Regions from separate parts of the Homo sapiens genome. Here region 2 is linked to region 1. Evidence: fine-mapped expression QTL. A gene starts in region 1. The other region holds a variant in brackets. All regions are shown on one strand. Distances are from middle to middle. Region 1 holds the start of LINC02691 (long intergenic non-protein coding RNA 2691). Region 2 overlaps LINC02691 (long intergenic non-protein coding RNA 2691).

What was found. PIP is the estimated chance that this variant, and not a neighbour inherited with it, causes the effect.
Region 2: its variant is fine-mapped to the expression of LINC02691 in lung (GTEx, PIP 0.92).

What each region holds. Positions count from the first base shown.
Region 1 is chr14:104,217,657-104,232,671 of GRCh38, forward strand. It overlaps LINC02691 (long intergenic non-protein coding RNA 2691), which reads left to right and starts at 5,928. Exons shown (of 3, transcript NR_146612.1): 1 at 5,928-6,160. RefSeq lists an enhancer at 4,890-5,782.
Region 2 is chr14:104,238,601-104,253,615 of GRCh38, forward strand. The region is part of intron 1 of LINC02691 (long intergenic non-protein coding RNA 2691); the gene reads left to right. Among named protein-coding and RNA genes, the nearest start is that of LINC02691, 23 kb to the left of the region's middle. RefSeq lists enhancers at 391-1,236, 1,237-2,081. The variant G/A (reference allele first, on the strand shown) is at 8,698.

The DNA.
Region 1 (15,015 bases):
CCCTGGTCCGGGTGGCACTGTGCTGGCACAGTGAGGCAGCCCTCGTCCAGGTGGTTGCAGGCTGCCCGCCCCAAGGTGGACGAGGGAATGTGACAGGAGCTGCCCAGGGCTCCCAGTGCCCCCAGGCTGTGTATACAGTGACCTCACTGGTCTGAGGCATCATCCAGGCCGGGGTTGCATATTATTTGCATATTATTTGCATCTCCGTTGGTTTCTTGGGGAAGCCAAGTCTGCTGCTGGTCTGGTGCCTGCACCTCATGACAGGTTGGGTCTGGAACCCAGGCCTTTGGCTCCAAGTTCTCTGTGATCTGCCAGGATGTGGGTGGCACTGAGCGGTCCCTGGGGAGGGAGTCAGGAGGCAGGAGCAGAAGCCAGACCAGGTACAGATGAGGCAGAGACAGTCCCCTCTGTGGGGCTGGGGTGAGCAGCTGACAGAGGTGTCTGCTGGCCTGAACTCTCATCCTCCAGACTGGGTGAGGGAGTGGAGAGTGCTCTCGGGGCCCACTGAGGACGACAGCCTGAACTCCCAGCCCTGGGCCCCCTGAAGTGAAGTGGCGGCTGGTATGCTCCCATGTCGGGGGCTCTTCCCAAGTAGGGAGTGGTCATGAAGGGGCCCCCCTGGGTCCTGGGGGCTGTGGATGGACAGACCAGAGCCCACATGGTGGCAGCGGTGATGATTTTGCTCAGCCGTTCCTCCTCACCTTGGGCTCTCTTGGGGGATTAGCCTCGTAAACAAGCAGTTCTCACCCTCTCAGGGCTCAGGGCCCTTCCCTGTCGTTCCTGATTTCCGCTCAGCCCCGGGGAGGCCTGTCTGGGCCAGTGGCAGGTCCCCTGGAGCCCGCGCCTTGGAGGGCAGTGCAGAGGCCTGGACTGCGCCTGTGGGGAGGGGAGTGCAGGGAACCGCGCCTTCGGCTGAGGGTTGGAGGCCCCGCGTTGTCCTGCTGGCTGGGGGACCTGGGGCACGTCCTGGCTCCTCCCTGGGCCTCAGTTTTCACATTTTGTTCAATGCAGGGCTGGGTGGTGAAGTCCTGGCTGAGGGAATGTGACAGGTGCCTACCCGGGCCCCTCATCTCCCAGGACTTGGGGGACTGAGGAGCAAGCATCCTCCGTGTAGACACGTGAGGCCAGGAGACACCCGCAAGGTCAGGTCTGGAATATGGAGGTTTCTGGATGACCAAGCAGCTGCTTCTTAAAAACTCTACTTTTGAAAGGGACTGCTTTGCATCAGAATCTCTCCAGAGTGAAGGGTGGACCCGCTGGTTTCTGAAGCCGCTGCAGACGTGGGTTTGCAGATTGGCCCAATCTCAGCCCCGCTGGTGAGTTGGGGCTAACAGGGCCTGGTACAGGCTGCAAGGCTAATTTAGGATCCAATGAGATGAGACGTGTAGGGTGCCCAGTGCCACCTGTGAGGCATTGCTGTTGGGAGAGCAGAATGTTCTGGAGCCATTAGGCTCCACCAGGCAGGGAGGACACCTCCTGGAAGCCTCTGACCTGCCTCATGGGTCCAGCCTGGTCTTTCACAGCTGGAAGCAGGGGCTGGCTGTGCCTTTTCACTGAAAAGGGCGGCATTTTTGTTCTTTCTTGAAAATATAAGCATTACTGTTCTTTAAAGTAGATGTAGAATTCAGGTCTTCGAGATTTTTTACAGAGGGATTTTCATAATATACATGTGACCACCAATTCTTAAACATTTACTATGCAAACTGTTTTAAAGTTAAAAAAAAAAAAAAAAAGCAAATGGTTCTGTTAAAAAAAAAAAAAGGTACCAAAAACCCGTAAGCAGCAAAGCTGGAATTCGGGCCCAGGTGTGTGGGACACTGCCTCTCTGTCTGCTCCGGTCCTTCCATGAGTCCCTGCTGAGCTGGCACCAAGAGTCCCTTCCCAGCCCCCCAACCCCCCAGGCCCCCAGCCCCTCACTGTCCTCTGGCCTCTCATTATCTCAGTTCCGCACATGGAAAATCAATAAATAGTTTGCATAGTGTTCTCCCCTCCTGCCTTTTATCAATATTTAATGACAGGCTGCGGGATGCTTTTGGTGTGCATCCTTCTGGGGCCCCTCCTAATGGGATAGCGACAGAGGTCTCTGCAGGTGCCCGGGCTCACAGATCGCCTCCTGGATGAGGCCCGGGTGGCCGCGATTGGCTGCGCGGGCAGCAGGCTTGGAGTCGGGGGAACTCGGTGATGAATTTTAACAACCTGGGAAGACTCTGGCACCGGCCGCTGTGCAATTAGCGGCCTGCGGATGTCAGGGTGGGTTCCAGATGGGAGGCGCGGGGGAGGGGGCTCCTCTTTGCCAGCTTGGCTGGGAGGGTGCACGTGGGGTAGGCTGGAGTCAGACATGGTGCGGGGCGGGGGGCTCTTCCCAGCCGTGTGTCCTCTCTCACAGACTCAGAGGGAGGTGGTATTTAATTTGGCTCAGCAGCTGCCCAGAAACCCTGACCCCTTCAGGGCTGCACATCCTATGTGAAGCGGGGTCCACCCGGCCCCCTCCCCCAATGACGTAGAAGCTGATCATCCCCTTTCAGAGTTCAAGCCTCTCTGAGAGAAGCTGACCCTGATCCGCATCCATTAGGGCGGTGGCTTTGGGCTGAAGTCCACATTGGCTGGTAACAGGGTCAGTAAATAAGGCGGCTCGGTGACAGTTCCGGAGGTACAGATGAATACATAACGTCAGCTTCCTGCCTGTCCCCATAACCAGGAGGGGTGGCAAGGCTAGCCGTGTGTGGGGGGCTCACTCAATGCTGCTGTGAGTCTCTGGGTCTGGATTCCACATCTATACGTATTTCGCCCCCGCCCCGCAGGAGGCCCAGCCTGCGGCGGTGGCTGCTTCCCCGAGACTTGAGCACGAGTGTGTGTGGGGCCAACACTGGCCAGGAAGGAGGTGGCTACTGAACTGATGACAGCTGGTCCCTCTGATATACGGAGGCTCTGGGCTTGGGGATTATTCCGCCTGTGGATTTATCGCCCTTCCGGAAGGCAGCCCAATGGGCCTGTGGGCTTGGCCTCAAGGAATGTTTGGCTTTGGGGTGAGAGGGCTTGGAGGGGGATGGGCTTGCTCCTTTGGGGGCCAGGCTCATTCCCTCGGAAGCAGGACAGCCCCGAGGCCTCCCCAGGGTCCTCTTCTGGGACAAGCTCCCTTTGTCTTTGAGGACATGGGAAGACCCCGAGAGGGAGCTGTCGTGGGCCGCCGACAAAAGCCCACTTTACACTCACCAGCTTGGCGGGAGCTCTGCGTGTGGTCCAAAGCCGTGTCCCCTCTGTGGCGGGCGGCATGGCGGGGGCAGCTGGGGCCCCTCTATCCTCCCGCGGCTGCACGTGCTTCCCTGCGAAAAGCAGGGTGAAGCGACGTCTCGGGGCCAGGACCCTGCTCTGTAGCGGGGCGGGGGGTCCTCCAGAGGGAGAGGAGGAAGGAAAGGGCGTTGGGCTGAGGGGATTGGAATCTGGGGTCACAGGGCTCTGCCAGGGCTCCTTTGCCAGCCACCTGCCCCGGCTGGGAACTCAGCCACCCTGTGTCTCTGTTCCCATCTGTATCTGGGGACTGCAGAAACTGCCTCCTAGGAAGTCAGGAACATGGGGCACACTGGGGGCCCTTTGAGTTCCCCTCTGCCCTGCTGGCTCTCGGCCCATCCTGACTCTCCCCACCGGAGCTCCTGGAGCCGACCCTGCATGGGCCCCACCCAACTCTCTCAGGCTCGGACCTGCTGGTGACTCTCCACGCTCAGGACCCACTGTCTCCGCAGGCCATCTGTGTACCCTGCATCCGCACAGGTGCCCTCCCCAGGTCCCCAGAACTCCTGCCTCTCAGGCCGGGCTGCCCCAGGGAAGGGAGCACAGCCAGGAACCCGGTCTGCAAATGAAACGCTGGTCAGAGCCTCCCCACCAGGCCACGTGGTGGGTGGCATGCAGGCTCCCTGGGCTCTTAGGCACCCCCGGTGGCATTGACAGCTGGGGAGAGAGGTGGTCTCAAGGACTATGGAGTCCTTCCTGAAAGTCTCTGCTCCTACGCAGCGGAAACGAGTGAGACTGGGAGTCAGCCCATGGCGAGGAGCTGGGGTGGGGGAACATGGGGACCCGAGACCCAGGCAAAGGCCACCAGTGCTCCCCAGGCGTGTAGCCTGAGCCTTTGGCCCCCAGAAGGGGGTGCGGTGGGGGCACCCCCTGGGCAAACCTGCAGCATAGAACAGCACAGAGGGCCGGGGCCCGGGTAGGTGGATGTGGAGAGGTGTTCCGGAGGGTCTCGGATGCTATGAAGAGATGAGAGGTGTTCAGACGCCATGAAGAGGGGGGATGCCGCCCTGTGGGTGGAGGGTGGTCTGGAAGGCCCCAGGCTGAGGGGCAGCCCTGGTGGGTGTGGGCTGGGGAAGCCTCCGGGCAGTGGCTGGCCTGGTGCCCTTGAGCTGCTCTACCCCTCATGGTACCAGGACCCTTGGCGCCCAGATGTGCTGGGAGCCTGCACCCTGCGGAGGGGGGCCAGGCCCCTCCTCCCCGCTTTGTCCTCTGCAGCCACCTTGGGCCGCCACCCTCTGACCTGCTGGGGGGTTGTCTCTGTGCGTCATCTGGGTGGCCTGAGCCCGGCTCTGATGACTTCACATGGAGCCACCTGCCAACAGAGACGCTGGCAAAGCAGCTGCTCTGGGACCTGACAGAAAAGATAAAAATGATGGAATGTTTGTTCTCTGACATGGAAAACCAGGCTCCCACATTTAGGGCAATTGGAGAAAGATCTTCCTGCTCACCTCGGAGCACAGGTGAAAGACCTGCTCTCTTGCACACCTGCTGCTCCCTGGGCCAGGCACAGCCGCCTCCCGTCTTCTGATGGTGCTGTGGCTGTGGCCTGGCTCTGCCTGCATGGAGCGTTGTGCCAGTTAGGGGGTCTCTATGGTGTCAGGGAGCTTCGGGCTCCCCTGGGCTCTGTGCACAGGCCTCTTGGTGGGGCTGGCAGGACAAAAGGAGAGGAAGAAATCGAAGTTAGTCTCAAACTGCTAGACCACAGATCCCATGGGCGGGTCATTCAATGTGGTGGGGGACAGTAGGTGGTGTGACCAAGGCCATCACACAGGGGCACCTGAGGGTGGGAACATGCGGCCAGCCTGTCCCTCAGGCCTGCCTGGGGTCCTCAACCCAGCATGGGTCAGGGAGTGCTGGCCTGCAGCCCAAGAGACGGGGACTCCACTCCTGGCCTTCTGCGTCTTTGCTTGGAAGGCTCTTATGGCTTTGTGGCCCATCCCCAAGTGCCAGCTCCTTGGGTACAGCCTCCTGTGTCAGGGTCAGTGCGGGGTCATGGCACAGGGCTGCCCTGAAGGGTGCAGAGGAGACCAAAGCCACAAGCTAGGTCTCTTGAGGGCAGCTGCCTCTCGGACCCTTCAAAATGGGTTGGGCCCTGACCCTGGTCTCGGACCAACCCTGCCCCTCCCTGCTGAGGTATAGATGGAGCTGTCAGGGACTTGGAGGCCAGCGTCTTCTCCCCCACTCCCCACTGTTGGAGGCCCCCAGCAGACTCCCTCAGTTTTCTTGCTAAGGCCTCTGCCACGCGGGGTGGTGGCTGTGCACCCTACGGCACGTGCCCTGTACAAGCCCCTCTGGGCCCCTGCTGTGGCCTTCACCGTTGGCCAAGTTCCCGCTCTGGGTCACTCTGCTGATGGCTGAGGGGGCAGGGTGTGAGGGCGTGGTCCACTCCCAGACTCCTACTCTCCCCAAAGCCCCTCCCCGACCCTGCCCTCCCGCCTCTGCAGGCAGCCTGCCGCCCCCGCCCCCACCCCAGCTGCCTCCTCCTTTCTCTGACAACCTCCTGCCTGGGGTGTCCTGGAACTGCGCCAGGGGGACCAGGTGACCTTGGACACGGCGTAGCTGCCTGGGCCACCCCCTTTCCTTGGTAATTTGCGCAGACTCCGGAGGGAGCATGAGCAGCTGAGTGCTGGGGGAGGGGCTTTCCTCTTCCTGTCTGTCATGTCCAGCCTGTGAAGAGCACGCTGGCTGAGCTGGCGAGAGGGGTGGGGGCGTCCTGGGGCTGCTTCTGCTCTGATGAAGGCACCCACTGTCACTGTCCCGGCCCTCGCTGAGTGTTCCCGGACCCGTGGGCCCGCGTCTGTGCCAGGCCTTGGGGAGCTCCAGCCTCGGAGCCTCTTCCCGTTCTCAGACCTCAGTGCGAGGAGGAAATCGGGTGAGTTGAGGTTAATGTTTCCATTAAACCTGGATGGATTTTCCCTGCGTGGAAGGAGCTGTTACGCGCCAGGGCTCTGAGCAGCATGGACGGGGCCCCAGCGCAGCCACGCTCCCGAACGAATGCCCTCCTGGGAGGGCCCGGCTGCCTGCCTGCCCCCTGTGCCTCTGCCGCCAGGCCTCGCCCTCCCTCCTCTCCTCTCTTGTGAATAAAGGGCCTCAACCCCACCTACCCGGTGTGCTGAGGGTCCTGCTATACTTAAACTGTAGTTAAAGCAAAAACAAACAAACAAAAACAAAAAAAACATGCAAAACCCCTGTGGCAACAGCTTGTCCCGTGGATATCATCTCCACTAATCCATGTCTCCTGCTCGGGGTCCTGCGGTTTCCAGGCCTGTATCTGCGGGTACTTATTTTCCATTTCCTCCCGAGAGTTTAGCCTGCTAATGAGATTTTGGTGTCTGGTATCTTGGCACATGTCTCCAAAGAGATTTATGGGGCTTCCCTCTCCTGGCCCCTCACTTGTCCTTGGCAGGAAGCTCAAGGGGTTCGATGTAATCTGCTCCAGGGCCCTGGGGAGGGGGCAGAATGTGCTGGAAGGCAGATCTGGGTGGGGTCTGCGGCCAGAAGCTGGATGTCTGCTCTGGAGGAGCCAGGCTGGTGGCGTGTAGTCTGTGGTGGCCCTGGGATAACCAGAGAGGGGTGTGGGTGGGGGGTCCCCTAGACCACCGGCCACCTCGGAGCCAGTCTACAGACTTGGTGTCTCCGCCAGCGCCAGTGATCTGAGCCGAGCGCCCCCTGCTGGTGTTTGGGCTTCCCAGTCCCACTTCACAGTGGGGGCTCCCGGCTCAGACCCACCCATCCATGCCACAGCACTCAGCCTCTGCTCAGGGGCTGGATCTGGCCGGGACCTTGGGTGCTCGGGGGCCCCATGCTCTCCAGGGACAGGGACCTTCGGCTCCACCTGCTGCCTCAGGTGGTCTCATCCATGTGGCTTCAGCCCATTTTCCAGGCAGGGGACAGAGCAGCAGTGACCACAGGGCTGTACAGACACCTGGGGCAGAAGGAGCTGTGGGCCCCTGCCTGGTCCAGAGGTTTCCAGGCCGCAAGCCTGTCCCTGGCTGCTGAACGCCGGCTGGGCTCGGCCTGGGTGGAGGAGAGGCCACAAGGCTTGGGTCAGGGAGGGCCTGACCTTGCTGTGACCTTGGGCACGTCTCCCTACTCTCAACAGAGTGGGGCTAAGAGCAGTGCTGTCGTTGGTGGGATGGAGGGAAGATGCCTCCCAGGGGGCGTTGCTGACCCATGGTGGGTAGATGCCCACCATCACCCCAGCTGCATTTCCTCCTGGGATCTGGAGACTGCTCAGAGTGAAGGTGGGTGTGACTCCCCGGGGCTGCTCGGAGTGAAGGTGGGTGTGGCTCCCTGGGGCTGCTCTGAGTGAAGGCAGGTGTGGCTCCCTGGGGCTGCTCTGAGTGAAGGCAGGTGTGGCTCCCTGGGGCAGCTCAGAGTGAAGGCGGTTGTGACTCCCCGGGGCTGCTCGGAGTGAAGGCGGTTGTGACTCCCGGGGGCAGCTCAGAGTGAAGGTGGGTGTGGCTCCCTGGGGCTGCTCTGAGTGAAAGCAGGTGTGGCTCCCTGGGGCTGCTCGGAGTGAAGGCAGGTGTGGCTCCCCGGGGCTGCTCTGAGTGAAGGCAGGTGTGACTCCCCGGGGCTGCTCTGAGTGAAGGCAGGTGTGGCTCCCTGGGGCTGCTCTGAGTGAAGGCAGGTGTGGCTCCCTGGGGCAGCTCAGAGTGAAGGCGGTTGTGACTCCCCGGGGCTGCTCGGAGTGAAGGCGGTTGTGACTCCCGGGGGCAGCTCAGAGTGAAGGCGGGTGTGGCTCCCTGGGGCTGCTCTGAGTGAAAGCAGGTGTGGCTCCCTGGGGCTGCTCGGAGTGAAGGCAGGTGTGGCTCCCCGGGGCTGCTCGGAGTGAAGGCAGGTGTGACTCCCCGGGGCAGCTCAGAGTGAAGGCAGGTGTGGCTCCCTGGGGCTGCTCTGAGTGAAGGCAGGTGTGGCTCCCGCGGGCTGCTCAGAGTGAAGGTGGGTGTGGCTCCCAGGGGCAGCTCAGAGTGAAGGCAGGTGTGGCTCCCGAGGGCTGCTCAGAGTGAAGGCGGGTGTGGCTCCCGCGGGCTGCTCAGAGTGAAGGTGGGTGTGGCTCCCAGGGGCAGCTCAGAGTGAAGGCAGGTGTGGCTCCCGCGGGCTGCTTAGAGTGAAGGCAGGTGTGGCTCCCTGGGGCTGCTCTGAGTGAAGGCAGGTGTGGCTCCCGGGGCTGCTCTGAGTGAAGGTGGGTGTGACTTGCTTCAGATCTCATTGACGTGGATCTTGGGCAAGTGGTTTTCACTCTCTGGAGCCAGTTTTCTTACCTGGGAATTGGGTTAAATCCCGGTGGCCTTGGGCTGTGGTGGAAGTTAGACAGGACAGCCACATGCCACACACCTGACAGCCTGACAGATGTGTCACTGATGGTCACTGGTGGGTTATGTGGGGCTACTCCTCTGCCTCTGACTCTAGGATCCCATTAGTTGTTTACCAAAGTAGCATGTCCACCAGGGTCCTTCTGGGTATACGGCTTGCTTCCAACTCTCTCACTGATATTTTAGGTCCGCTAACACTTGGAGAAATCTTTTGGTGTGAATTATTCTCAGCAGCTGCAGGGCACCCTGGTTCACTTTCCCGTTTCTCAAGCTCCAATGGTGCCCGACACTGTTTCCTGGGGAGGAAGCTGATGTGCCTTTAGGTGGACGCCTGTGTGAGGCTAGCCCGGGCCGAGCTGGAGCTACCAGCCTTCTGCGGGCATGCATGCCTGGCCTGCCTCAGCAAACACACGATAAATCCATTTCCCCAGGCCGCCTGCTCCCACTTCCCAGATAGCCGGGCTCATACTCACATTTATGTTTCATTTTGTCTGGCTAATATTGTCTTAGATAAATTAGGGGGAGCAGATTAGTGTTTGATTTAGTGGTAGGAACTCCGATGAGCCTAACGTTTCGTTTTAGTGGTGCCGGGGATGGGATGAGGGTCCCTGGTTCCTCATAGCCCTTGTGGTGGTGGCTCCTGAACCAGGAGGGGTCATTTGCATGGGCCCAGGCTCTCAGTGCAGACCCAGCAGGTCTCTCTGGCCGCTGGGACAGTGGTCAGATGAGGTGGCCCCTGTGGGGCCTGGGGGCACAGAGGTGCCACAGTGAGCCAGCCTGGCCCCTTGCTAGCAATAGGCTTGTGCTAGAAGAAAGACAGAACTGACCTGCAGGTGTCAGCAGCTGAGCCTCCTTGTCCTCCCTCCTCTGCACGCTTTCCTGTGCCTGTGTTATTAAGGGGGCCAGGCCAGGAAGTGCTAAATTAGTTATGAGATGCAGGGCTCCAGGGATTCAATGGGGTTGTGTCCTCGCTTCCTGTGCATTTCCTGTGTGCTGGGCATGGCCCAGAGAGACTCACAGACAGAGGCCTGCCCTGGAGACTCCCAGGCTGCAGTGGCCAGAGAAGGATCCCAGGGGTCTTATGCTTGTGCAACTTTGGGGGGTCTTCTTTAAGAAAGAAAATTTAAAAGTAGAAATATCTAATTGGTTCTAGGCCTTGCAAGAACCCGTGTCAGTGGGGGCTTTGCGGCTGAGCTTTCATTAGGGGCTGAATGAATTGCCCCATGTAGGGCCGTCAGCCTGATGAGACCATCACTGTCTCCAGGGATGGGGACTCACAGGTTAACAGTGACAGAAACTCTCACAGTAGCTGGGGCTGAAGGATTTGCTGGATGAGACCTGGGCATCCTGTGGAATCTAAGGATGGTTGAATCCCCAGGATGGGAGGCAGCTGGGATTTAGGGGCCACCAGGGCCAAGGCCCAGAGGTCTCCTTCCCAGGTCAGGCCTCAGCTCTCTCACTGGTTTGTTCCACGTGTGGCAAATGTGTGGCTGGAGGCTCCCCAATTTTGCACCTTACACCTCTGGCCACCAGAGATAAATTGACTTTTGTTTCCTAGTTCAAGTTCCAGTAACCCTGGAAAAGTGCTCTGATTGGCCCAGCCTGAATCAGGTGGCTCCCTTAGGATCACTCAGCTGGGGCCAGGGCAGTGGGGTCACAGTGCACTAACCTAGCAGGTTTGCAATAGCTGTGGGGTGGAGAACAGGAAGTAGTTCCTGGAAAGGGGTAAGTCATACTGATCTCCTTTCTGACTAAGCCAAGGCTACTGTGGGGGCTCAGAGGAAGGTGTGACTTAACTCTGCTTTGAGAACAATGGACAGTTTCGTAGAGGTTGGGCCATTTGGGCTGAGTCTTGCAGTATCAATAGGAATTCACTAGGCAGAGCTGGAGACTAAGGTGACTCTAGGGGGAGGCATGGAGAGGTAGAATTGCTTGGGAAGAGTAACTTGTTCAAGGTGATTGGAGCGTAGACTTTGGTGGTGGCAGGAGGGTGGAGTGAATGGGCAGGAAGCTGGGTACGAGGTGGAAAGGCCTTGGACTTGACTCTAGAAATACTAGGAAGCCACCAGAGGGCTTGAGCAGAGGTGACGTGACCAGATCCTTCCTGTGTTCCTGTGAGGATGGGTAGACAGGGCCCCCTGGGAGCTCACAGAGGTGGAGTACTTTGCCCAAGGTGGCGAGAGGGGACGCCCGCAGCCTGGGTCCCAGTGCAGCCCTTGTTCCCATGGGTCCAGATTCCTGAGCCTCACCCACCCCTCCCTCACCACTGCCACCTGGCCAGTAGCCACAGGTGGCTTCCAGAGCACTCTCTTACCGTCCCCCAGGGTTTTCTGGGTACTGACCTTCTCTCTCTCACTTGGGATACCCACCCCTATCAGGGAAATCAGGGGAGGCACTATTGTCTCCTTTACAGAGGAGTAAACTGAGGCTGGGTTAACATTACTTGTTCAAGTCACTCAGCTAAGACGGGCAGTGCTGGGATTTGAACCCAGCTCTGCCTGGCTTCTGAGCCTGAGCTGACTTCAGTGCCCGGCCCCCAGATCTGCACACCAGTGTGCCCCAACTGCCTGGTGAGTGGCCAGGCCAGAGGGAAGCAGGGAGCAGGGTGGGCCCAAGGCGAGGCTCAGCGAGAAGGCAGGAGCAGTAGCCGTGGGGCAGCACTTGGGGTATGTGGGCCATGGGGAAATGGGCACCAGGGGTAGAGCCCCTTTGGGGGGCTGTGGAGGGGGAGCAGCGGGGAGTGCAAGGGGATGTGACACAAGCCCCTTCTGAGGGAGGACTTGGTGGCCGGTTGCTCTTGAGTGGTGCCTGCCTCAAGGCCTGGGCTGTGTCCTGCCCTCCTGCTGCCCCGGCCACCTCTGACAGACCCTGCTAACTGTGGTCAGCCTGGCAGGGCTGGCATGGCAGAGCAGGCCTGTGGTGCCACCCTGACCTGGCCACTGTGGTCCTTATCCTGGGTCAGGAGCCGTCCCCGCCCCAGGCCCATGTTTTCCATCTGCCGGGGACCCTGCCCAGGAGGGGCACATGTAATGCTAGCCTCGTTGTGCAGGGCGGCTCCTGGCTGAGGCCTTGACTGAACTTGCATCTACATTTAGACTGAAATGCACCGAGAGGCTGGGCCTGCTGTGTCCCAGGGGCTGCGGACGGGGTGTCCATCCTGCCTGGGTAGGATGCATCTGCAGGGTGCCTCCCACCACACGCTAAAGTGGGGTCATCACCCCTGGGTGGCCTGGGTCACCAAGATGCTACCCCACCCAGCCTGATGGGATGCCTGAGCTCCAAGCCTGCCCCCTCACAGGGGAGATGATGGCCCCACGAAGGCCCCCCTGGGTGCTTGTGGTGGCCGCTCACTCAGTCTCTCTCTCTCCAAAGCGGCCTGCCCGTCCGCGAAGTCACTTAGCTGGGATCTAATCGGGTTTCACAGGGGCATAAATTACTTGGCTAGAGGTTGTTCCCGGGTGTTTCCACCCCGGGCCTGTTATTTACACACCGTGCGGTAATGTAGTCACGGCCTTGGGTGCGCAGTATTTATGGTGTTTGATCGGCTTCCAGCCCAGGCCGCCTGTCCAGGAACATTTGTTGAGATGTTGTGCAGAGCCGCTGGGGACCTCTGCCACAGGCGGGCATCAATCTACCTGGAGCTCCTGCGGCAGCCCTGCAGAGCCTCAAAAGGGCAGGGCGGGCCTGTGGTGCCACCCTGAGCTGGTCACTGTCTGCAGATGGCAGCTCTAGGAGTGATGGCTGAGGACGAACAAGGGTGCGAACTGTCACTGACATTTCCGTGGGGCGTGGACGTGACACATCCCGAATGCCATACCTGGCTGTGGACAGTCGCACCGTTAAAGGCAGCAGCGCTAACTGCCGTTCACGGAGCACCCACTGTCTGCTAAGCTCAGTGGAAGATCCTTTGTTTTATTCTCTCCGTGAGTGCTTGTCGCAGCCCTGCAAGGTAGGTGTCCCTGATGGGAAACTGAGGCTCAGTCACTGCAGGTGACTTCCCAAAGGAACACAGCCTGGGAGCTCCATGTGGCAGCTTCCTCTGGCTCTTACAAGGGGAAGGATGAGCTCCCGTTGGTTGCTGGGGTCCCGCCCCTTTGCCTTCATGTCTGTGATGGTGGAAATGCTTCATAAGGAGTGTAAAGTGGTTTTTGTTCCCGACCCAGAGAGATCTGGTCACGGTAATTCTGTATCTGCTTGCCTATATTTATCCCCCAAGTCCGGCTGGTGACAGGGAAGCAGATGATCAGTGCCAGGCCTGATAAATTGGACCCAGGGCTGAGGCGGGAGAGAAACCCTGTTTTATTGTTGAAGACAAAGCCGTCGGGCAGGAGGCATATGTTGTGTTGGAGCCCTCGCTGCGACGGAGGCCCTGGGCCTCAGAGCAATCAGGGCTTTCACGAGCACCCCCCACCCACTACCTACGTGGGAGGCAAGGACCCCCATTAGCCCGGCTGGCTGTGGGGGAGGGGCTGACAGAATGTCAGTGGGGTGGAGGGGAGAGGAGGTGATCAATGAGGACTTATTGACTTGCATCTTTCCCCACGACTTGATTAAGACCACTATGGAGATGAGGCCTGAGGAGGGGGCTAGGGCCAGAGCCCCGGGCCAGTGTGGCTTAGGGGATCTTTTATGTTTGGAGGGCAGGAAGGGAACAGAGAGCTGCCGGCTTTGTCAGATGCCTGAAGAGTATTGATCCATATTAGAAATGATAATGAGCCAATTCTGCTGGGCTGGGAGGCCTTAACCATTTCATTGCTTACAAGGCTGTCCTGGTGGGGATGTTGGAGGAGGCTCAGCCTCTAGCTGCTCCTCACCATGTTTCTCCTCGCTCAGGTCTGCAGCTTCCCAGGCCACGACCTGAGTCCACTGATGGTCCTGGAGGTCTGGCCAGAGGGGCAAGGGCAGCAAAGGAGAGGAGCACAGGACTGGGAGCTGGAGCCTGGTTCTGGGATTGGCTAGACCCTGCGGGGTTTGCCAAGCACCTGGTGGGTGCCTGACATTCTGTGCATCTCCTCGGGCACCTCTAAGGTGGTCAGGATGACCCTTACTGCTATAATGACAGATGAGATGAAGGCATGGAGGCTCATAGTTGCCAAGAGGCCAGGCCTCTGCCTGCCCCTCCAGCACTCTGGGACGTGATGCTGCCCCTCAGACCTGCCACTTGCTGATGGAGCTTTGACTTTTGTTGAGTCATTTACCCCATCTGGGACCCACTTTCCTCATCTGTAAAATGACAACCACAGCAGGCTTGCTGAGATAATTCAGAGAACAATGACAAGGGCTCATACAGTCCAGCCCTGCACCAGCACTTGGTGGTGGGGCCTGGCCTGAGCCTAAAGCTTGACTCTAGCTCTGTGTCCACTTTAGTGAACATTTAAAGTTGAGGAGTCTGAGTTTGCTCCTCCATGGAGGGAGGACATGCCATTCATCTTTCTAAATGGTTGTGAGAATCAAATGAGTCTATGCATGGGGAGTACCTAACATGTAGTTGGTGGTTAACAGAAGATGGCTGTCATCATTGTCATTGTCACCATCACCATAATCATCATATCACCATCACAACACCCTCACCACCATCATCATTACCATCATGATCATCACTGTCACATCATCACCATCATTACCATCATCATTACCATCACCATAACACTCCATCAACATCACCACCATCATCACCATCGCCATTACACTCCATCATCAACATCACCACCATCACCATCACCACCACCATCATCACCATCACCATTACACTCCATCAACATCATCAACACCATCATCATCACCATGACCATCACCCCATCATCATCATCACCATCATCACCGTCACCGTCATCATCACCATCACCATTACACTCCGTCATCACCACCACCATCATCATCACCATCACCATTACACTCCATCATCACCACCATCATTACCATCACCATCATCACCATCATCATCATAATCAATATTATCACCATCACATCACTCTCACCACCATCATCACCATTACCATCATCACCACCATCACCATCATCATCACTATTGCATCATCGTCACCACCACCATCCTTACCATTACACACCACCATGAGCATATCACCACCATCATTACCATCATCTTCATCACCATTATCATCACCATCACATCATCATCATTATAGCTATACCATCACTGTCATCAGCATTACTATCACATCATCATCACCATCATTGCCATCATCATCACCATCATCATTGCCATCATTATCATCACCATCATCACCATCACTATCATATCACCATCATTATAATCACTATCACTGTCATCATCATCGTTATCACCATCACATCATTACCATCACATCACCATCATCACCATCATCATCATGGTCATTGTCATCATTATTATCATCCCTGTCATTGTCATCATCTCTTCATTATCATC
Region 2 (15,015 bases), 21 kb after region 1:
TTTAATGGAATCAGCTCTTTAAAGAGCCTATCCCCAAATACAGTCCCATTCTGAGGTCCTGGAGTTTAGGGCTCTGATATCTGAATTTTGGGAGGTGGATACCATCCTGTCCCTCCCAGCGAGTGGCCCAAAGCTGAAGCCATTGATGAGTGACTGACAAGCAGCAGCCATGGCGGAGGGACCAATCCTGAGCTGGAGTTGGGGCTGTGGGGGCCTGAAGGACTGTAGGGGTTCTGGGGAGAGCCAGATGTCAGCTGTAGCGAGAAGAGAAAGACTGCCAGACGTGCGGCTGAGGAGGAGCCAGGCTACGCCTGCCCTCAGGCCCCCGAGAGTGTGGAGGCCCCTGGCCATGCACCGGAGGAGCCTCTGATGGATGCTTCATAAGAGTGGTGCCCACACTGCAGCCACCTCCGCTGCCAGGGACCCCTCCGGTGAACACGTTGGCTCCTCCTCAGGGAAGGGGCAAGTTTCGTGGCTTGACCGGAGGGCCCTAGGTGAGCAGTGCCGCGTTGTCTTTGGAGGAGGTTTCTCCTTTGGCCTCGGTTTGTCCTCTGTGTCATGGGGGTGATTGTCCCTGAACTTTCTGGCTGCTCAGGGCTGGATTTAGGCTCTGGGGAGGCCATGGGGGTGTTTCTTGAAGACCGAAGCCATGCTCGAGGCTGTGACTCCTGCGAGACAGGGCCTGAGGGGAAGCCCCGGGGTGAGTGGGTCTGTTTGAGGCTGGCTGGGTGTATGGGCCACTGTCTCAATCCCTTTGGCTCAAGCTGGTGATCATGAAGTGACCTCCCATGCCTAACTTATTTTGGATGGGTCTGAAGGCCACAGCACAAGCATCAGGGTGCTGGAGGCACTGCCAGGAGGGGTGGGAGAACAAGGCTGCCCTGGGAGTCCTGGAGAGGGGCCCCAAACATGGGTGGAGGTGGCCTCTGGGCTGGCCCTGAAGGCTGCAGGGGTGGGGGTGTAGTTGGCCTATGCCCTGTGGGGGAGGGAGCTGGTGAGTCCTGGGCCAGGGCAGGGCAGGGGGCAGAGCTATGAGAAAGGACGGCAGAAGGGGTGTGAAGAGAAAGTGAGGGGCTCAGGTGCCAAGGCCTTGGAGGTGGTGGGGCTGGGGGCAGGCGCTGCAGTTCTCAGCATGAGACGGGGGGCAGCAAGGACCCCACCTGCGCTGGCAGGCCCTGCTGCCCCTCTAGCCAGGAGGAGAATGCTTTTTCATAGGGGGAGGAAGGAGAAAAATGACTTCGGGCTCCTGGCAACTTCAGCAATCAGCTCCTTGTCAAGCAAATAAAATGCTTTTGAATGTCCAGATTAATGATTGATCAGCACAACGCGAGCCTGTTGGAAGCTTCCAGTTGGCCCACGTGGGGGTCCCCGCTGCAGGCGCTGGTAAAGTGACACCCCGTTAGTCACTTCTCTGCGTGTGCTTGGGAGAAGCCCACACACACATGCTGGTGCCTGACGTGGGGTTATTTCTGTGCTGAGGAGGCAGGAAACGGCAGAGGAGGCAGCTTCCAGGGCAGGGAGCACTGGGGCGGCCTGGCCCAGGAGGGTGCTTCATGGCCATGGGACAAGGCCCACACCAGGCCCTGGTGACGCTGGGCGAGAGCCTCTGTGTGGGCGAGGAGGCTGGGGCTGGCCGGTCCACTCGCCCAGAAATGCCAGAGGTGCCCAATGCCATGCGGCCTGGGGGATGCTTGGACCCGGAGTGATGACAGTGGCTGGTCATTTGCACCTTGAATTAAGCAGAATAAATCAAATAAGAGAACAAAGCCGATTCTTGTTTTGATGCTTATTTTATTTTTGAATGCAACACCCATATAGAAAAGGACATGCATCATAAATGTACAACAGGATGTGTAACTTCAGAGCCCGCATCTGTGTGACTGCCATCCAGATCACCCGGTAGAGTTCCCCAGCCTCATTCCCCTCCCCCTGCACCCTTCCAGCAGAGCCCCTGCACCTGCGGTCACTCTTGCCTCCTCCTTATATGGGCAACACTTCTGTCCTAGCAACCCTAAACAAGCTGGTGTGGCTTTCCCCGTCGGGGCCAGGGTGGGGGTTTATGTAAATAGAATAAAGCTAGGTGATTGCTTTGTTCCTTGTTTCTTTCACCTGCTGTTTTGTCTGATGTGCAGCCAACCTTGATAACATTGCATCTTCCTGTATAGGGGTGTGAAATAATCTCAGTGTGTTGAGTTCTTGGTTTCTCTAGCTATAGTCCGTTGGCTTCCATGGCTCCACCATGTTCCATCATGCGAACATACAACAGGCTTCTCATCCATTCTGCTGTTGATGAACACTTGGGTGGTATCTGAATTGGCTGAGTGGCCCATGCTACTGTGAACACTCTCGCCCATGTGCCCACTTGTCCTAGGGTCCCTCCCCAGGAGTGGAATTGCCAGGTCATGAGATGTGCGCCTCTTCAACCCTTTTAGATAATGCCAATCTGTTATTGTTTCTAATTAATAGACTATTTTTTTAGTCTGGACGCGGTGGCTCACGCCTGTAATCTCAGCACTTTGAGACACCAAGCTGGGCAGATCACCTGGGGTCAGGAGTTCAAGACCAGCCTGGCCAACATGGCGAAACCCAATCTCTACTAAAAACAAAACAAAAATTAGCTGGGCATAGTGGCACATGCCTGTAATCCCAGCTACTTGGGAGGCTGAGGCAGGAGAATAGCTTGAACCTGGGAGGTGGAGGTTGCAGTGAGCCAAGATTGCGCCACTGCACTCCAGCCTGGGTGACAGAGTGAGACTCCATCTCAAAAAAAAAAAAAAAAAAAAAAGAAAAGAAAAAAAGACTATTTTTTGAGCAGTTATAGGTTTACAAAAAAAAAAAAAATTCTTCCTTGAGGGTATCCGGGCAGCTCTAGGCTCTTTATGCTACTATTCACATTATACAGTCAGTTTGTTAAGCTTCCCATAGACACAGAACCAAGTGCTGTTGGGGTTTTGGGTGGAATATTATTGAACCAAAGCAATTCAGGAAGAACTGGCATCTTCACAGGTTGTATCTTCCAATACAGGAGCATGTTTTATCTTGTTATTTGGTGTTCCTTATTTCTGTCAATACAATTTTTAGTCTCAGATAAATTTGTTAGATATATTCCTAGATGCCCAATATTCTTTGATGCTTTTAAATTACATTTTTTTACTTGTTTGTTGATGTAGAAATACAATTTGAATTTGTTTTTCCTGTTTTTGTTTGTTTGTTTGGTTGGTTTTGTCTCCTGTTGCATTTTGGACACTGTCTTTAGATTGGTTTTCTAGTTTATTCATCTTTCTTTAGCTGTATAAAATCTGCTGTTAAAACTTATGCATTGGCCGGGCATGGTGGCTCACACCTGTAATCCCAGCACTTTGGGAGGCTGAGGCGGGCGGATCATGAGGTCAGGAGATCAAGACCATCCTGGCCAACACGGTGAAACCCCGTCTCTACTAAAAAAAAAAAAAAAAAAAAAAAAAAAAAAAAATTAGCCGGGCGTGGTGGCGGGTGCCTGTAGTCCCAGCTACTCGGGAGGCTGAGGCAGGAGAATGGCGCGAACCCGGGAGGCGGAGCTTGCAGTGAGCTGAGATCGCGCCACTGCACTCCAGCTTGGGCGACAGAGCCAGACTCTGTCTCAAACAACAACAACAACAAAAAAAAAAACAACTTAGGCATTGAGTTCTAATTTTTGGTTAATTTTCAGTTTTAAATATTTTTATTTGGTTCTTTTCCAAATCTTCTCTGACATGTTTTATAGTTTTCAGTCTCCTGTGATATGTTTGAATTTTTGAATCTTTTAAACTTAGCAAGCATCGTTATTTGATGTGATCTGATCTTCTGCTTATAATTCCAAAACCTGAAGTCTTTGTGCATCTGTTTCTATTGTCTTTTGTTTTTGCTGGCTCTTGATTGTGAATTTAATTTCATTTTGTGTGTGGTTATCTTTGTGTGCTAGAGATTGTATTGAAAAATTGCTTGTAAGAATAATTTGAGCCTTAGGATGATAGTTCCTCTCCTTTCCTCTCCTCTCCTCTCCTCTCCTCTCCTGTCCCCTCCTCTCCTCTCCTCTCCTCTCCTCCCCTCTCCTCTTCTGTCCCCTCCCCTCCTCTCCTCTCCTCTCCCCTCCTCTCCTCTCCCCTCCCCTCCCCTCCCCTCTGCTCCCCTCCCCTCCCCTCCCCTCCCCTCTTCTTTTCTTTTCTTTTCTTGATGAGTTTCACTTTGTTGCCCAGGCTGGAGTGTAGTGGTGTGAGCTCAGCTAACTGTAACCTCCACCTCCCGGGTTCAAGCGATTCTCCTGCCTCAGCCTCCTGAGTAGCTGGGATTACAGGCATGTGCCACCATACCCGGCTAATTTTTGTATTTTTAGTAGAGGCAGAGTTTCACCATGTTGGCCAGGCTGGTCTCCAACTCCTGACCTCAAGTATACCAAAGTCCTGGGATTACAGGCATGAGCCACGGCACCTGGCCAATAGTACCTTTCTTTAAGGATGGTGTTGGTTTGCTTTTTGCAGGTGCCTAGTGGGGCACTACCTGTCTGGAAGTATTTTACACGAAGTTTAAGCCTTGAGATTTCCTGGAGCAGGACCTCTGAAGTCACCATCACAAATGGCAGGCCCACACAAGGACTGATTTACTTCTGACTCACCCATGGCCTTCAGGCTTAGAGTTGGGGCCTTGTCGGATTCCTCTCTCTTACCAACTCTGGGCTTTGACTCTGTTGTCCCTAATGCCATGCTGATAAATAATTAATAACTGGCTCTTCATAAAAAAAAACAGTTTTGATCTGTAGCACCTGCCAATTCCCATGGTGTAAACACTCCTGCCATGGCTGACTTCAAGTTACCAACACAACATCACTGAGTGTGGGATTGGAAAAAGATGCCCATGGCTGGCTCTTAAGAGTCCTCTGAGCCTTGCTGGTTCTCCCTCACCTGCCATTGAGGGGGCTGATGGGTGCAACAGTCATTCCTGAGGCTGCAAAGTTCTTTAAAGCAGAAGCAGCTGACTCTTGCTTATGTTTTGCAGTACTTGCTGGGCTCTCAACTCCTCCAAGGTTTTGGCCTGGTAGTGCATTCTTTGCTACCTGATTTGCTCTTTTCTGCTTTAAAGAAGATTGGAAAAAAATTTTTTTTTTGAGACAGGGTCTCACTCTGTCACCTAGGCTGATCGTGGCTCACTGCATCCTCCACCTCTCAGGCTCAAGGGATCCTCCTACCTCAGCCCCCCAAGTAGCTAAGACCACAGGTGTGCGCCACCACATTAGGCTAGGTTATTATTATTTTTTTTTTGTATTTTTGGTAGTAGAGACGGGGTTTCTCTATATTGTCCAGGCTGGTCCTGAGCTCCTGGCCACGAGTGAGCCACCCACCTTGACCTCCCAAAGTGCTGGGATTATAGGCATGGGCCACCATGCCTGGCCAATTGAAATATTTTAATCCAGCTTTTCTAGTTGTGTTCAGTGGAAGAGTTGGTCCTAGTCACTAATCTGCTACTTATGGACAGAGACATCTCCTATTTTCTGTTGTAAGGACAGGAAAAAGCAGAAAATATAGAAAAGGAAATAAAGAGCAACCATCTCTCAATAGTACTGCTGCCCAACAAGAACACTGCTGACATTTGGAAACTGTTTTCCAATTTGATTCTTATTGGAAAGCATAACAACCAGCCAGGGCCTGTGCTGCTGGAGCGGGCAGTTATGTGCAGGGAGACAGCTGGTTACGGCTGGCTCCTGGCCTCGACGGAGCTTCTCAGCCTCTTGGAGCCTCTGTCCCCTCAGCTGCTGAAGGAACACATCTCCTGCACTTCTCAAGTTGCTGCCGGTGCGAAGGTGACTCCAGATTCTGCAGTTTGGGCTCCGTAGCTGCTCAGCAAATGTCAGCAGGTCCAGAAGCAAGGCTCCTCAGCTGCAGAGTGAATGCAAATGTCCCCATTGTAAATGGCCGTGGGGCCCAGGGCTCTGCAACCTTGGATGCCCAGGATCAGACCAGCTGTCCGCCGCTTTGGAATCTGGGTTTATGGGGGACCCGGGCCTCATAAATGTCAAAGCGTGCATTCTCGGCAGTCCAGGAGTCGGAAAACGTGTCTCTGAGGGGAGCATTCCTTCCATGCACACAGCTGCCTGGCTCACGTTTTTATCCTCGAGCCATAATTAGTCCTTTCCCCTGACCCTGAATTCCTGCCCCGGCCAGAAGCATGCTGTGGCCCTGGGGCCCGCGGCTCCTGGTGGTCGGTGCCCCTTCTGCTCTCCTGCAGCTGCGGCAGGTGGAAGAGCTGTCGGGGGTGGGAAGGGGGCTTGGAGGGATAAGGATGGGCTGGGGAGGGCTCCCAAGGCAGTGGACACTGTGGGCTCTGGGGACTGCATGGCTGTGGAGGGGGCATGTGCTGTTGGGCTCCCAGCCTCTTGGGGTCCTCTCTGTGCCAAGATAGAGCCTGTTACCCTCCCTGAGCAGGTGTGAGCAGACACCTGTCCCCTGCCCTGCATGGGAAGTGAACGATCCACTAAGTGGGGAGGTCAGGGTCAGATCCCCGGCCTTCCCATGCAGGATGACTGCTCAGGCCCAGGACAGTGGGTGGTCAACAGAAACCCCATCCCTGCCCATAGAGGGTGCTTCCCAGTTCACAGTGACACAGCCTGGCCTGCTCCTCTTCCAGCCACCCAAGGCAAGACACAGAGCAGGAGGCTGAGGCTGGTGTGAGGGAAAGGGGGATGCAGCAAGGGGATACCTCAACCTTGCCCGAGCTACAGACAGGTGAGGACTTCTCCCTCACCTGGTGTTTTCCACTGCATTCTGAAGAGCAGGTGACACCCACCCCAGGGTGGATCCAGGATGGATCTCTGGGTTTCCTGCCATCTACAATGACCCTCCTCATTTCCCCTGGCTAGCTGCCCCCTAGGATGGAGAATGCATCATGGTCACTGACACTTGGCGCCCTTTTCCAGCCTCAATGGCCTGGCAGAGCCAGTGGGGACACAGCAATAATGTGGGTGGCAGTAATAACAGCAGCTGAACCACCTGAGCACCATCCTGACGAGGCATAGCCTGAGCTCTGTGAACAGTGAAGTCCATCTGGTCTCTCAGTGGCCTGAGAGTGACTCTAACTATTATCCTCATTCTCTGAAGGAGGAAAACAAGGCAAGGGGATTTAAATAATTTTTAAAGGTCAGATACCTTCACAAAGGCTGAAGTGGGAGTCAGATGATAGTGTCTGGGTGGAGACCCCATACTCTTACCCTCAACTCTGAGCCATCTGCTATACAACATCTATTTGCTGAGTGGAAGGTGTGTAGCCTGAACCATGCTCACTTCTGGTCCAGAGCTCTTTCCTCAGGGCCCTGGGACATTCACGTTTAGTGTACAGTGGTATATGTATGCTGAATTCCTACATTAGGCCAGCCACATAGTCAGCACTGATTGCTAAAAGAATAACTGAATAAGGATAAATGCTTGAGGGGATGGATACCCCATTCTCCATGATGCGATTATTTCACATTCCCTGCTTGTATCAAAACATCTCATGTACCCCATAAATATATACACCTACTATGTACTCACAAAAATTAAAAATTAAAAAAGATACAAGTTAAACATCTGGCCAGTTATAATGATATGAAAAGTAATAAGGACAAAATATAAATAAAAGATTATAAGCAACAATAGCAAAAAGCATAATTGGATAAAAGGAAAAAAAAATCCCATTCCATGATGAAGAAACTAAGGTTCTAGGGAGCCAGGAAGTGGGGTCCGGGCTCCTGGCTGAGCTCTTAACCCAGAGCCCTAGCAGTTACATTTTCCACAGAAGGACAGAATGAGCACATGGGAGAGGCTTACTTGAAGTCCCCTTGCCATCAAGGGGCAAGGGTGGCACCTACCTCTCTTTGGGCAGGGCCCTGATCCTGCTGGATGGGGGCTGCCAGGGCTGCTGCTGAGCAGACTCCTAGGCTGATTCCTGGACCTGATTTTCATTGACGCTGCAAAGACCTCAGCAGAGCGCCTTTGCGCCCTGATGAGATTGACACACAGCTCAAACACACTGCATCCTTGTGGGGGTGGAGGAGATGCACAGACCCTGGCAGAATGCAAGAGAAGCCTGTTTAATGTGTCGACAGGAAGTATCAACCTGCAGCAGAATTGCAATGCAGTCTGTCCTGGGAGGCCAGGGGCTGGGCAGGCGGGGCAGGCGTTTGCCTTGCCTCGTGGGCCACTCCCAGGATGACTCCTAGCCTGGCCAGGATGAAGGCTTTGGCCAGCGTTGACGCTGTTTCCCAATGCAGAGATCACTCTGACACAGGCCAGCATTGCCTCGGAGGTGGCCCAGAGCTGGGCGGGAGGGAGACAGGCAGATAGCAGGGAAGAATGAGCCATCTCTGTCCCCTCAGCTGGGGTGCCCAGATTCAGAGGTCTCATGGTGATGGCTGCCTTCCTGGACCTACTCCTGGTTGGGCTCAGAGACTGGTCCAGGGAAGGGCCTACACAGCACTCTACAGTGCAAGAGATGCCGTCTTGGCCCTGGGGCCTTTGAGAGTCCGCCCCTCCAGAGGAGCTGGGGCCACAGGGTGCCCTGGCCGGGGAGTCAGGAGGCCTGCAGTGCCAGGGCCCTCTTGCTGGCCGTGGGGTGTGTGCCACTGTGAGCGAGCGGAAGTGTGTGCATGTGTGAGTGGGTGAGAGTGTGTGTGTTGTGCATTGATGTGAGTGTGAGAGTGTGTGTGTCCCC[G/A]AGGAGGGGACAGATGTCTATGGGAGGGCTCCGCTCTGGACTGAGAGCACAAGTCTGTGAGTCAGGACCTCCCGGAGCCGTGGTCCGGGGCTGTGTGCTTGGGGTGGTGAGAGGCCCCTGGCACCTCCAGCGGCTCCCAGTCCTGTGTGGGTCCTGCAGCCTGTGGTGCACAGGGCAGTGGGGAATGGTCCTGGGGGCCACACGAAGCCTTGGGGAAGTGCTGCATTTCCAGGCTGCAGAGGGCTTTGGGGTGCCGACTGCTGAACGAGGGGCTCCCTGCACTGCGGTCACCCTGTGGCAGTGTCGGGATGGGAGGACAGGGCCTTTGGGGGCTGCTGGGCCCTGCTCACCCTCCCTGGGCAGCCTGAGCCGGGAGGTCAGGTTGGGGGTGCTGGGCTCCCAGATTCAGCCCCAGGAGGCGTCCGGGCTGCCATGCTCACCCCGGCCCCGCCCGGAACAAGGGCTCAGAGGGAGAATGAACGGCAGCCGCCTGGTTTGCACATAATTTGTTCTGGGGCAGAGTTGCGGCTGTTAAAAGCCTCGGTGAAAAAGCCTCTGGGAATGTGACAGCCTGAGACAGGGAAAATCAGCCCAGGGTCCCTCCTCGGGTTCACACTGCTGGAACCTCTGCAACCTGCCTGGCAATTTGGATGTCACCAAAATCTGCCCTGCGGTTGGACGCTGGTGGCTGAGGGTGAGTCCACCGGGCCTGCTGAGGAGGAGAGCGGAGCAGGGCATCATGGGCAGGGGGGTGCTGGAGAGGGCTGGGGGGCATGTGGGGAGCAGCTGGCCCCTCTGGTGGCCCAGGGCACCTCTGGAGAGGGAGAGGCCTGAATGGGGGCTCCTGTCTCCACCCAAGGCTGTGGGGAGACCAGGACTCCCCACCAGTGAGGAGGGGCCATTTTTGGAGCTGCCTGCTCTGCCGAGTGAGCTTGTGGCAGGCACAAAGTGGACAAACAGACAAGCATCTGAGTGGTGGCTGCCCAGGCCTCCAGGCCCTGGGGGACAGCAGCTCCTCGCTCAGGAGGAAATGCTGTCCCCTCTGGGCAGGGGTGTCTGTATCTAAAGGAGTTGGGACACCTGGGCTCTGCCGGGGCTGGTGGCTGGGCTGGTCCGTGCCCCTCTTGGGGGTCAGACAGTGGCAGGGCCTGCAGAGCCTGGGTGTCCTTGTGGTGCTGGCAGGTTGCAGAGGGTGGTGCATGAGTTTGCGGGAGGACCACAGCCGGCGCCCACACGGCAGACGTGGGTTCTCTCATGTCATGGCTTGAAGACGGCTCAAGGCGTGGGCAGGGCTGCTTTCTCCTGAGGCCTCTCTCCTTGGCCTACGGATGGCCACCTTCCCTCTGTGTGCGTCCCAGTCTCCTCTTCTTACAAGGACCCCAGTCAGACTGTATCAGACCCCACCCCAGTGACCTCATTCCACCTTAATAACCTCGATAAAGACCCAATCTCTAAAGGCAGTCGCACCCCGAGGGCCGCCTTCAGCATAGGAAGTTGGGAAAACGTAATTCAGCCCAGGAGAGGTGGGAAGTGGGCCAGGCACTCAGGGGCGGGGATATCCAGGAGGCCTGGCTTGACCTGGCCTTGCCGCAGGCATCGCTGGTGGGCCCTCCTCAACCTCTGCCTGCAGGCTCAGGAAGTTTGTTGTGAAGCAAACAATCCCTGCGCTCCGAAGGCGCTTCTTCAGGCCGAGATCCAAAAATCTGACCCCCAGAACCTCCAATGACCAACTCTTTTTCCTCATGATGCCACCACCGTCCTCACCATTATTGTCATCGGCGTCATTGTCACCTCCATTGATTGAGCCCCTACCAGCTGCCAGGGCTGGGCAGGTTCCTTCTCACAGGTGGCCTCATACAATGCGCCAGCAGCCCTGGAGGTGGGGCAGCTGTGCCACTGCCCCATGAGAGAACAATCTGTCATGAGTGGGTTCTGCCCATGAGGACCCAGCCAAAGGGAGGTGGCCAGGATCAGGCAGGGCCAGCACCAGAGCCTCAGGCTTGGGCCTAAGCCTACCACGGGGACCCAGGCCGCCCTCTCCACAGCTCAGGGTGAGGCTGGATCTTCCTCGCTGGTGGGCACGCACGCAGGCGGGCAGGCTGAGAGGTGGGTGCTGGCCTGGTCTGCCAGGAAGGGTGGCCTCAGCTGCCCGCCCCAACCCTCACCAGTGGAAGAGAGGAACGAGGAGAGGTCATGAATGACTGGAACTGCCCTCCCGTGACCTGCCAGATGACCATCCAGGTTAAATTGAGATCTGAGTTTCATAAAAGCAAATTAAATAGACATACATGTATATTTTGATAATTAAAAGTTTTGAACCAGCCATTCACTCAAGGGTAGTTCTGGGGAATTTGTGCCCATGAGACCCTCCCCCTGGTGGGACAGAAGGAGCTAGGAGTGGGAGGCCAGGGGAGGCCTGTCTCCCTCATCCCCCATGTCCAGGGAAAGCTGTGTGGGCCTGGGCCAGCTCTCTGGCCCCATGGGCACTCTGTGCCTGGTGACAGCAGAGGTCCTGCTCTTGGGAGGCTCTGACCCCCCACAGCGGGGCTGCTCTGGGGGAGTGCTGGGGAGCTGCGGTGTCCGGGGAGGGAGCTGGGACCTGCTCCCTTGTGCTGGTGGTGTACCTGCCTGGCACCTCCCTGGCACCAAGCGTCTCATAGGACCCTGCAACAGTCCCGGCTGGGGATGCTGCCTGCAGGTTTCAATGGGGAAACTGAGGCTCAGAGGTGGGATGGGACCTGCCACCCTGTGTGACTGGCAGGACAGAGATGGGGCTGGATTGGGCCCCAGCATGGCTGGCCCTAAAGTCCCCTGCTTTCATGCTCTGACCATAAGGCTTTCCTCGTGGAGGTTGCTGGGGAGATGAGTGGGGTTGTTGCACAGGCCTCCCGGGTTTAGGCCGCACCTGGGCAGGGACCTCCCAGCAGAGATGGTCCCCCCATTTGGTGTGGAGGGACCACATGAGCAAGGCAGAGTAGGAGGTGCATTGGGGATCTCGCGGTGTAGGGGGTGGGGCCTGCAGGGGGCGGCTGGGATGGGGAATGGGGCCGAGGCCGGGGGGTGATGGTGAGGGTGGGAGTGTGAAATGGCAGTGCCCCCACCTGGGCAGCTGGAGTGCATGGCCCTGAGCATTGGGTCCTGCATGGTCCTGCGGTGGCCTGGTGGGCCCAGGAGACCAGAAGGCCTGGGCTGATCCCTGAGGGTCTGTCTGGTGGGGGTGGCCAAGGGCACTCAGGGTCATGGTGCTGCAGAGGGGGTGTCAGAGGGCAGTGTTGGCAGGAGTTCTGAGTGAGGAGGTGAGAATGCCTGGTAAAGGTGGAGGGGGAGGGAGGGGAGGGAGAAAGAGGGGGTGAAAAGGGGGAAGGAGGGAGGGAGGAGGGAGAGGGGAGGCCCAGTAGACATCCTCACCCGGGGGGCAGTGAGGGTTAGGGACCCTGCCCTGCGTGAGTGATTGGGCAGGGGATCCTGAGGGCGCTTCCAGCCCCTGCATGGTCAGGAGGTCACACGCCCACTCACCCGCTCATTCATTCATTGCGTGGTCGGGAGCTCACACGCCCACTCACCCGCTCATTCATTCATTGCGTGGTCAGGAGGTCACACGCCCACTCACCCGCTCATTCATTCATTGCGAGGTCGGGAGCTCACACGCCCACTCACCCGCTCATTCATTCATTGCGTGGTCGGGAGCTCACGCGCCCACTCACCCGCTCATTCATTCATTGCGTGGTCGGGAGCTCACGCGCCCACTCACCCGCTCATTCATTCATTGCGAGGTCGGGAGCTCACGCGCCCACTCACCCGCTCATTCATTCATTGCGTGGTCGGGAGGTCACGCGCCCACTCACCCGCTCATTCATTCATTGCGTGGTCGGGAGCTCACGCGCCCACTCACCCGCTCATTCATTCATTGCGTGGTCGGGAGCTCACGCGCCCACTCACCCCCTCATTCATTCATTGCGTGGTCGGGAGCTCACGCGCCCACTCACCCGCTCATTCATTCATTGCGAGGTCGGGAGCTCACGCGCCCACTCACCCGCTCATTCATTCATTGCGTGGTCGGGAGCTCACGCGCCCACTCACCCGCTCATTCATTCATTGCGTGGTCGGGAGCTCACGCGCCCACTCACCCGCTCATTCATTCATTGCGAGGTCGGGAGCTCACGCGCCCACTCACCCGCTCATTCATTCATTGCGTGGTCGGGAGCTCACGCGCCCACTCACCCGCTCATTCATTCATTGCGAGGTCGGGAGCTCACGCGCCCACTCACCCGCTCATTCATTCATTGCGTGGTCGGGAGCTCACGCGCCCACTCACCCGCTCATTCATTCATTGCGTGGTCGGGAGCTCACGCGCCCACTCACCCGCTCATTCATTCATTGCGTGGTCGGGAGGTCACGCGCCCACTCACCCGCTCATTCATTCATTGCGAGGTCGGGAGCTCACGCGCCCACTCACCCGCTCATTCATTCATTGCGAGGTCGGGAGCTCACGCGCCCACTCACCCGCTCATTCATTCATTGCGAGGTCGGGAGCTCACGCGCCCACTCACCCGCTCATTCATTCATTGCGTGGTCGGGAGCTCACGCGCCCACTCACCCGCTCATTCATTCATTGCGAGGTCGGGAGCTCACGCGCCCACTCACCCGCTCATTCATTCATTGCGTGGTCGGGAGGTCACGCGCCCACTCACCCGCTCATTCATTCATTGCGTGGTCGGGAGCTCACAGGCCCACTCACCTGCTCATTCATTCATTGCGAGGTCGGGAGCTCACACGCCCACTCACCCGCTCATTCATTCATTCCTCCGCGCATCATCCATTCATCCACAGTGCTCACTGTGGCCTCTGGGAGGATGCTCCCACTCTGTTGGGGGGGCCTGTGGCTGAGGAGCCCCCTCCTCAGACTTCGTCTTGCTTCCCCCAAACAGCTGCCCTGGGGCCTGCTGGGCTGGAGCCTGCAGATGGGTGTGTGGGGAGGGTGCGGGTGGGCGGGATCTCTCACGCCTATTGAGGCCCCCATGCAGGGGGTGCCGACTCCCGCCTGCCACCCACCCTTTGTCCACGGCGTTCCTGGCTGCTTTGGCTCCCTCAGCCTCCAGTCCTTTCTTCTCTTTTCACCTCCTTTTCCAATTAAGAGCCCACCCTGCCTGCCCCACAGACACCGTCAAGCCTGGCCCCATTATCCAGTCCCCTGGCGGGTGGTCTCTGCACCGTGCTGCCCTCCATACGCAGCAGCCTCTGTCTCAGGGGTCTCACTGCCCCATTGGGTGCTGCATCCTGGGGAGCGAGAGGGGCTGGTGTGACTGTGCCTGGGCCCCACACCTGGGCTCCAGCAACCCTCGCAACACCTATCCTGGCTCTGTTTGGCAACCTAAGGGTGGTGGGCCACGAGCGTCCCAGGACCTCAGAATTCCAGCTCTTGGAAAAGTGCCCAGGGCATGAAATTCCCTTTAGAACACACCCTGGGCCCACTGTCCCTCTTGGGCACTCTCAGCCCTCAAGGCTGGTGGCACTCACTCCCTGCCCTCACAAAGGCTGCTGCTCCCACCTCCTGGCCATGCCTGGGGCCAGCAGCAAGTACATTGTGGCCACAGAGCCGGGCAGTCAGGAGAGGCCAGAGTGCGGTAGCACCTGTCCCACCCGCTATTCCACAGTAGGGGACAAACGGAGCTTGGAGGGGTTCAGACGGTGTCTTGAAGGATAGAGCAGGTTCCTATCTTTGAGGACTCCTCCTCCTGCTTCCTGACTTCTGGGTGGACCTGACCATCTCCTCGTGTTGCAGAAAAGGGCTCTAAAGCCCAGTTGTACCACCTACCAGCCAGGGAACCTGGTGAAATAGACACTGTACAATGTCTTCCAGCCTTGTGCTTCTATTCTACAGACGGGCACCATTACATCACTAGGAGGAGTGAACCTGCCTCTGGCAAACAGGTCCGGCCTGCAGCACCCACGGCGGGTGGTTTCCTTTCCTACCCCACAGCCTCCCCTGGGGCCACTGTGTGCCCTGTAACCCCCTCCTTCCAGCGGCCCCACAGCTCCAGCTGTCTGGGCAGGCTCTCCTCTGACTCAGGTCGAGAGCTGCAGCCAGGCCAGGCCCTCTGCTGTGGGCACACCCGCTGGCATCACCCCTCTCACTGGGCCCAGCCACCCCTAGGCCTGGTGCCTCCTTGGACAGTGGGCATGGCTGCCCCTGGCTGCAGCTGGTGTCCTGGGGCTGGCATCCCAAAGCTCCCGCGTTCTCCAGCACCGGTGGAGAGAAAGCCCCGCTGTCCAGCCGAGTTCTGATGGAGATGGTGCCAGGCGGCTTGTGCCCTCCTC